Linked DNA regions of Homo sapiens. The protein of the gene in region 1 interacts with the protein of each later gene in a biochemical or structural test. Each region holds a gene or a part of one and is shown on either strand. Other genes may lie near its edges. The genes, in order: BATF and HLF.

Region 1 (3,825 bases):
CATTGTATATAGTACAGATGTTGATTAAAAAAGAGAAAGGCATAACTTGACCAGTTAGTTTCTAAAAGATATCAATAGCTAATAAGTGGACCTAAGATAATCAGCTGAAAAATTATTTGAAATAATAAGAGAATGCAGTCAGCTTCTAAAATTAAAACAAAATGTAATAACGTTCCTATATGCAAAACATAACCAATTAGGAAATTAATGGAAGGAAAGATCCTGTTTATAATACCAATGACAACAGCAAATGGAAGGAAGGAATAATTTAACAAAAATTATGAAGAGTGTATCCTAAATGATTTTTAAAAGATTCAAATAATTGGAAAGATATACCTTATGTAAAGTTAGCAATTTTCCTTAAGTTAATTGATAAATTTAATGAGATCCCAATAAAAAACCCAATAGGGTTTTCTGGGATTTGGGCAAGAACTAGATTAGCTATTCTAAGTTTCCAGTGAAAAAAAATCATATGACAATTGCCAGGAAAATTCTAAAGAAGAAGTATAATGAAAAAAGATTAACTGACCAACATATTAAAGTGAAACACAAATACAGAAATCAAAACAATGTGGAAAAGACAGAACATTGAACAGGATAGAATATGGAAACAGACCCAAAAACAAATTCAGATTTTAAGACCCAAATACATATTTCAACTCCTAGGACACAAGTATAAATACAAAATGGGCTGGGCACGGTGGCTCACGCTTGTAATCCTAGCACTTTGGGAGGCCAAGGTGGGCAGATCACTTGAAGTCAGGAGTTCGAGACCAGCCTGGCCAACATGGTAAATGTTAAATTTTTTAAAAAAAGGAAGCTAAAGAAACTTGAAAAGACAAATAACCATTAAAAATTTATCTTGGAATGAGGAATTATTTTCTAAATAAAACATAAAACCCTGAAGCCATAAAGGAAAAGATTGATATACATTACTTTTATTCATAAAAAGTAAAAGTTTCTTTATAGATCAAAATACTGTATGCAAAATCAAAGGCAAATGACAAGCTGAGGAAAAATATCTGTAATACATATGACCAAAAAAGGTATGTTTACTTACTATATGAGAGAGCTCTTATGAATAGGAGATGATTAACAACCCAAAAGAAAAATGAACAATGGGCCGGGCGCGGCGGCTCACGCCTTAATCCCAGCAATTTGGGAGGCCGAGGCGGGCGGATCACGAGGTCAGCAGATCGAGACCATCCTGGCTAACACAGTGAAACCCCGTCTCTACTAAAAATACAAAAAATTAGCCAGGCGTGGTGGCGGGTGCCTGTAGTCCCAGCTACTTGAGAGGCTGAGGCAGGAGAATGGCGTGAACCCGGGAGGCGGAGCTTGCAGTGAACCAAGATAGCGCCACTGCACTCCAGCCTGGGAGACAGAGCGAGACTCCGTCAAAAAAAAAAAAAAAAAAGTAAAGAAAAATGAACAATGACTATGAATAGGCAATTTACAGAAAAGAGAAATAAGTGGCAAATAAATGTGTGAAAAGATGGTAGACCTTATTTAGTTAGGAAAATGCCAATTAAAGCAGCAGTGAGGCTGGCAAAGATGAAACATGTTGTTGATACACGATGTTGCCAAGGTAATGGAGAAGCAGGCACCATCACACACAGCTAGTAGTAGAGTCTGCATAACCCTGGTAGAAGGCAATTTGCCCACGTCCATTCAAATTATAGGTGCACATACCCTGCGACTCAGCAATTTGACATCCAGGAGTGTGTTCACAAACAAATCCACACATCATACAATTCTGTACATGTAAAGATAATCATTGCTGCATTGTTTCTTATAGGAAAGACTGAACATAAGCTAAAAAAATCCACCAATAAGGGATTCAATAAATTATTGTCCATTCTGTGGAATATTGCAGATATGTTAAAATAATGAGTTACATCTGAATGTGCTAATCTGGAAGGATTATCACTTCTGTACTTTAAGTTAAAAAGGCATAAATATAGTCCATAGTTTGCTACCATTAGTTTTTTAATTTAATGTTTTATTTATTTATTTATTTTTTATTTTTAGAGACAGGGTCTCACTATGTTGCCCAGGCTGGTCTCGAACTCCTGAGCTCAAGTGATCTGCCCTGCCCACCTTGGCCTCCCAAAGTGCTGGGATTACAGGTGTGAGCAACAGCACCCAGCCCCTTCTGTGTTTTTAATAAAAAGAAAAAGTTACATATATGCATAAGTATAAATGCAAACTTTTTCAAATAGATTATAAAAAATTGTTAATGATATTTATTTCTGAAAAGTAGGACTAAAGATCTAAAGCAAGAGGGAGATACTTGGCATTCTTTACCTTTTATACAGTTTGGGATTTTTTATCACATGCTTTTATCTTTATAATATAGATATCAAAATTCTCAGCATTGATCATTACCACACATGCATTAGGAGGATTTCTTTTCTAATTTTGACATCAAACATTGAATAATCTTCCATCACGACATGGAAGAGTATTCAATCTTGACGTTATCTTTTGAACATCATACATAAATATCTCAGCCCTTGGGAGAACCAACTGTAAGTTGGGATTTGAGTGACTCTAAGGTCCACAGTACTATATGATAAAAGATGGCAAATCCGTTTCCTTTGTGTAGCCATCTTGGTTGGTTGGTCATGGCTATCTGGTGCCGTACAGCTGGAAGGATTTCAAGTCAAAGACCAGGATCAGTGGAAAAGAGAGCTGAGGTCAATTAAGAAGCTTTATTCATGAAAAGGCTAAAATCAGTGGAGTTGCCGGGAGCAGTGGCAAATAGCAGTGTTAGCCCTGAGCCGAGCTGTTGACAAGTCATATCTGGCCTGGTGGATGGAGCTGAAAGCAAGTGAGAGTAACAGCCAAGTTTGAAAGCTTGAGATTTAGGTACTGTCTTAGATGGAAGTGGGCCAGGTGCTTGCCTGGGGCTGCCTCCTGAAGGAGTCTCACACCAGTATAAGAAAAAAGAGAGGTTTACAGGCTCCAGGGATGTGCTTTGTCATATATGACAGAAAAGTCATGAGTATAAATTATGCATTAAATGAAGCTTTGAGCTAACACTGTGAGAAATACGGTATTTACAATTGGAGAAAAATTGAGTAATGGAGGAAAAGATGTTTGGGTAGCACTATTGTTCTTGGCCTTCTGAGGAGGCAGAGAAGGATGCTTACGGTCCTATTTCACTCCTGGAATTCTTTTGCTCTCTCTGGGAGACCATGCCATAATGTTTGTTGGCACAGATAAGTCACAGGTCAGGAATGTTCAGGCTAGTTCCACCCTTAAAAAGTTCAATGTAGAATCAGTGAACCATCTATGGAAAGAGATGCGACCCTTCTGTCTCCATTGCTATGAATTTCTTTTAAGAAAAAACCATGTTAATTGAACAAACGACTATGTATTAACCACTGTGCCTCAAGTGCTCTCCCTGCAGCATCTCATTTAATCTGCATAAAAGCTGTATTTTATAATTCCTTGCATTAAGTAACTTGATGGAGATGACACAGCTTGTGACTAGGTCTGTCTGACGTCAGAACCCATTTTCCTAACCATTAAGTTTTACTGCCTCTTTCTTCAAACTCTGATGAAGATGTATTCATCTTCCCTAACCTATATTTTCCTTGAATCTCTACATGAATTAATTTTTTTGTCTTTTAAGCAATATCCTCCAAAATCTACACTGTCCCCCAGCCATCATCAGGCGTGATCAAGAAAGTAAAGACATGTTTACTTTCAATACAGTATATCCATTGTACAATTGATATCATATATGTCATATATATCATGATATCAACATATATAGATAGGTACTATATATAGATAGATACAATTGGTATATCAAAT
Region 2 (3,825 bases), on another chromosome or scaffold:
AGGGCTATAACGGGGGCCCATGGGTGACAAATCAATGGCTGTCACCCTGAGAATCAAAAAAGGAAATCACATGGTAAAAACACCAGAAAATCTAAACTAGTCAGGACATTGATGGTTAGACTGAGATGGGGTAAAAAAGGGGCACCATGGGCTCAGGTCTTGGGCAATTAGGTACCTTATTTCAATGAGATGCCTTTCCTAGTCTTGTCTTCTTAGTGATCCAATTTTTTATGGTGTTTTTTTTTTTTTTTTTTTTGAGATGGAGTCGCACTCTGTTGCCCAGGCTGGAGTGCAGTGGCACGATCTCAGCTCACTGCAAGCTCCGCCTCCCCGGTTCAAGCCATCCTCATGCCTTAGCCTCCTGAGTAACTGAGACTACAGGCGCACGCCACCACGCCCGGCTAATTTTTTGTATTTTTAGTAGAGACGGGATTTCACCGTGTTCGCCAGGATGGTCTCGATCTCCTGACCTTGTGATCTGCCCACCTCGGTCTTCCAAAGTGCTGGGATTACAGGTGTAAGCCACCGCGCCCGGCCTTTTTTGTGTATTTTAAAGCCTCGTATCTTAAACTAAAGCCAGGGATCCTGTTCAACCTGGATTTTCTCTTGAATGGAGGGTAGTTTGAAAGGATGCTGCTATGAGTGATAGACAGAACTTCCAGCCAGACTTTCACAAAGTCTCCAGATTTATCAAAGAGCAAGATTAGTTAATAACCCAGGTAACCTTGGCAACAAAGAGGCCAGACAAAAACCGTCTGTGCTGGAATTACACATATTGCTGCTGTCATGGTCAGGCCTGACCTTTCCACATAGCAGGTGGGGAATGGGCAGGAACATTGTCCTGCCAGGTGTCCTTGGATATTTTTTAGTTGTGGACGAAGTCTCAAACTAAAGACCATGAGCTAATATAAAGCAGGAAGCAGAGCTGTAACATGTTTCTCCTTCTGGCAGAAAGGTCTGAGCTAAGGGTAGATGGAGGAGAAGGTGTTTCTGGCCCCCAGCATTGGACAAGTAAACCAGTTCAATGAAATGGCCCCACTAAAAATGATCTTCCCTGTAGCTGCCTGAACTTCCTCTCTTGAGCCAATCATTAGGGTTAGCATGCATGCGCTGGAGAAAGAAGGGAGAATTGAGGTTGACATGCTGGGGTACCTAGCTGAAAATCCATTTAATTACCTTGATTTTTTAAATGCTTTTAATGGTCCATTCATTCACTTGATGAATTTTTTCAAATGCTAGTGTGTGCCAACCCTCTAACCCTGTATCAGGGGCTGGGAATACCGAGGTGAGCCAATACTGATACTGTTCCTGCCTTCATGGAACTTGTAGTCTGGTGAGAAACAGGGAGTGTTGATCTGTTGGGTGGGGCGGGGCTAAGTGGGTCCCTTGTTGCATGGAGGTAACTGGGTAGCCAGATGGCATCAGCAACTGGGAGAGGGAAAGGGGGCAGAGGATGGAGTGCCAAGTTTATCAGCCCCGCTCAAAATCCCGCTTCCCCCCTGCCCGCAACCCTTCTGCGATAACAAAGGGAGGCGAGCAGGCTTTTCTAGTCCAGGACACTCCTTTCGTCATTCCTGCCTTCTGTATCCTCTTCTGGACCCGGTTCCCAGCTCCCCTCCCTCCCACCTGAAAGGTTTGTTTTGCATTCCACACCTTGGCTGGCTCATCTGCATGTGTGGACAGGTGAGGCTGGGAAATGAGAGCACTTTAGAAGTGAGAAGAGCTCTAATAAGTTAGAGAGAAGTTGGTTGTTACCCTGAAGTCAGCTGGTGACTCCCTGGTCATTAAGACCTGGTCAGAATTGTCTTACACCACATCAAGCCTGTGGCCTATGGTGGGACCCCCCATTCCTCCCCCATCACATACATGCAGTTTCTACAGTGTTCCAGGGGCTTGTTCTTATGTACCCCTTCGCCTCCTGGGCTCCTGTTCCCCCGTGTGCAGACTCTGATACATCCTAAATCAAGTCCTCTTTTGAGTGCTCTTGGAAACCGCACTCCCAGGCACATTGTTGGGTATAGATTTACTGATACTGTGAAGGGATTGGAACCCAGGCTTCTATCAAAACACAAATAACTTCCATCAGAACTGGAGGCTTCACCACTGTTGTTAACTGGAGGCTTCACCACTTTGGGCCCCCTCACCACCATGACGTCATTGACTCGCCTGACTCCTCCCAGCCTCTCCCCTGCCTCCAGCTCCCCTGCTCGCTTTCAGAAGCACAGACAACAAATTCGGCCAACAACCATTGCACACCTGCCCTAGCTTGCTCACCCAGGTATTCTTCAAAGAGCAGCCTCCTCCCTCCTACCCAGAAGAATTCTGGTAACATCTATTTTGAAAATCGTTTTTTTACCCTGTTGCATATTGTTATGAAATGTATAAAAAGCTGGGGGTGCTTTATTTAAGATGATAGTACTAGTTTGTGGATGGCAGATAGGAGGTATCTACACAGTTTCTATCCCACACTTTCTGTATTTGTGCAGGGCAAATGCCTGTTGAGGGTAATGGGCAGTTTTGGGGGTGGACCGCTGACCTTAGACTTTCCTTGCAGCTTTGGCCCCAACCCATGTGACCTCCTTCAATGCCAACTGCCCCTTGGAATTCTGAGGGGTGCAAGCACTGGCCTGACCCATTTATTCTGGGTGGCATGTAACTGCAGGTAGTAGCATTGCTAGGACTGAGGGATTTGCTGTTGCAAATTGTTGAAAAAGGGGAGTTGCAAAATTCACCAGGTGCCACCATCAGTGAATTGGGAAGATCTAAAAGAAGATCCCTGTTTCTTAGTCTTCTTAAGAAGTTTTTCCTTTCTGTCAGGGAGGCAGCAGTGGGGGTGGAGGGCAGGGAAGGAGGGATTGTTTTTACACTGACCACAGTAAAATATTACTCAGGCTAATTAAGGCCTAGAGAATGGTTAAACAAGAAATTAGAGTAAATTATGTAAATTCTGGCCACCAATATGAGTACATTGATTAGCGGCAGGTTGAAGATTTTTTTTTTTAATTTCTATTTTTAATTACCAAAGTGTATGTATCTATTATATGATATTGTAATAGTTCAGAATAATATAAAAGGTAGAAAGTCTTACATCTTTGCCTCTGCCAATCCCCCTTCTAGAGGCTCCACCTTTATAGATTAGTATAAATCTTTTTGCGCCTCTTTCTATGAATATATGATTTTTAATCAAACTGGGATGAGACCATACATATTTGTGTGTAAACTGTCATTGTTTCCACCCACATAGTGGCATATCATATGAACATCTTTCTGGTGCAGGTGGGTCATTATTTTTAACAGCTGCCAAGTATCCCTTTGTATGACTGTATCATAACGTGGTTGTTAAATCTCCTATGCATAGTTTTTCCTCATTTTTTCTACTGCACATAATGCTGCAGTGAACAGTTTATGCTTGTGTGTACATGCACATGTATGGAGATTGCTACAGGACAAAATCCTGGAAGTGGAGTGCTAGATGAATAGTATATCCATTTAAATAGTTGATAGATATTGCCAAATTGCCTTCTAAAATTTTTGTACCAACTCATACCCAAAAAAGCATATGAGTGCCCTTGAAGGAAAAGGGTTCTTAAAATGTTGAGCAGGGAGAGTAAAGAAAGTTGAAATGTAATTTAAGGGTGAGGTGAGCCACCTGCTTTCATCCAGCCTCTGATCTCTGCTTCACTGAGCACGCCTCTGCTGGGCAAAGAGTAGGAGCCTGTTGGGACAGATCGGTGGGTCCTTGCTCCAAGAAGGAAGTGTGGCTCATGGGCCACACTCTCAGACATGCAGAAACTGTAAAGGAAGGAGACACAAGCTAAGAAACCC

Evidence for each region.
Region 2: the proteins of BATF (region 1) and HLF interact in a test that uses a peptide from one of them, tested with the Homo sapiens proteins (one large-scale study listed by IntAct).

What each region holds. Positions count from the first base shown.
Region 1 is NC_000014.9:75,528,663-75,532,487, forward strand, and holds part of BATF (basic leucine zipper transcriptional factor ATF-like), read left to right. Parts: intron 1-3,825. UniProt on the Homo sapiens protein: AP-1 family transcription factor that controls the differentiation of lineage-specific cells in the immune system: specifically mediates the differentiation of T-helper 17 cells (Th17), follicular T-helper cells (TfH), CD8(+) dendritic cells and class-switch recombination (CSR) in B-cells.
Region 2 is NC_000017.11:55,316,730-55,320,554, forward strand, and holds part of HLF (hepatic leukemia factor), read left to right. Parts: intron 1-3,825.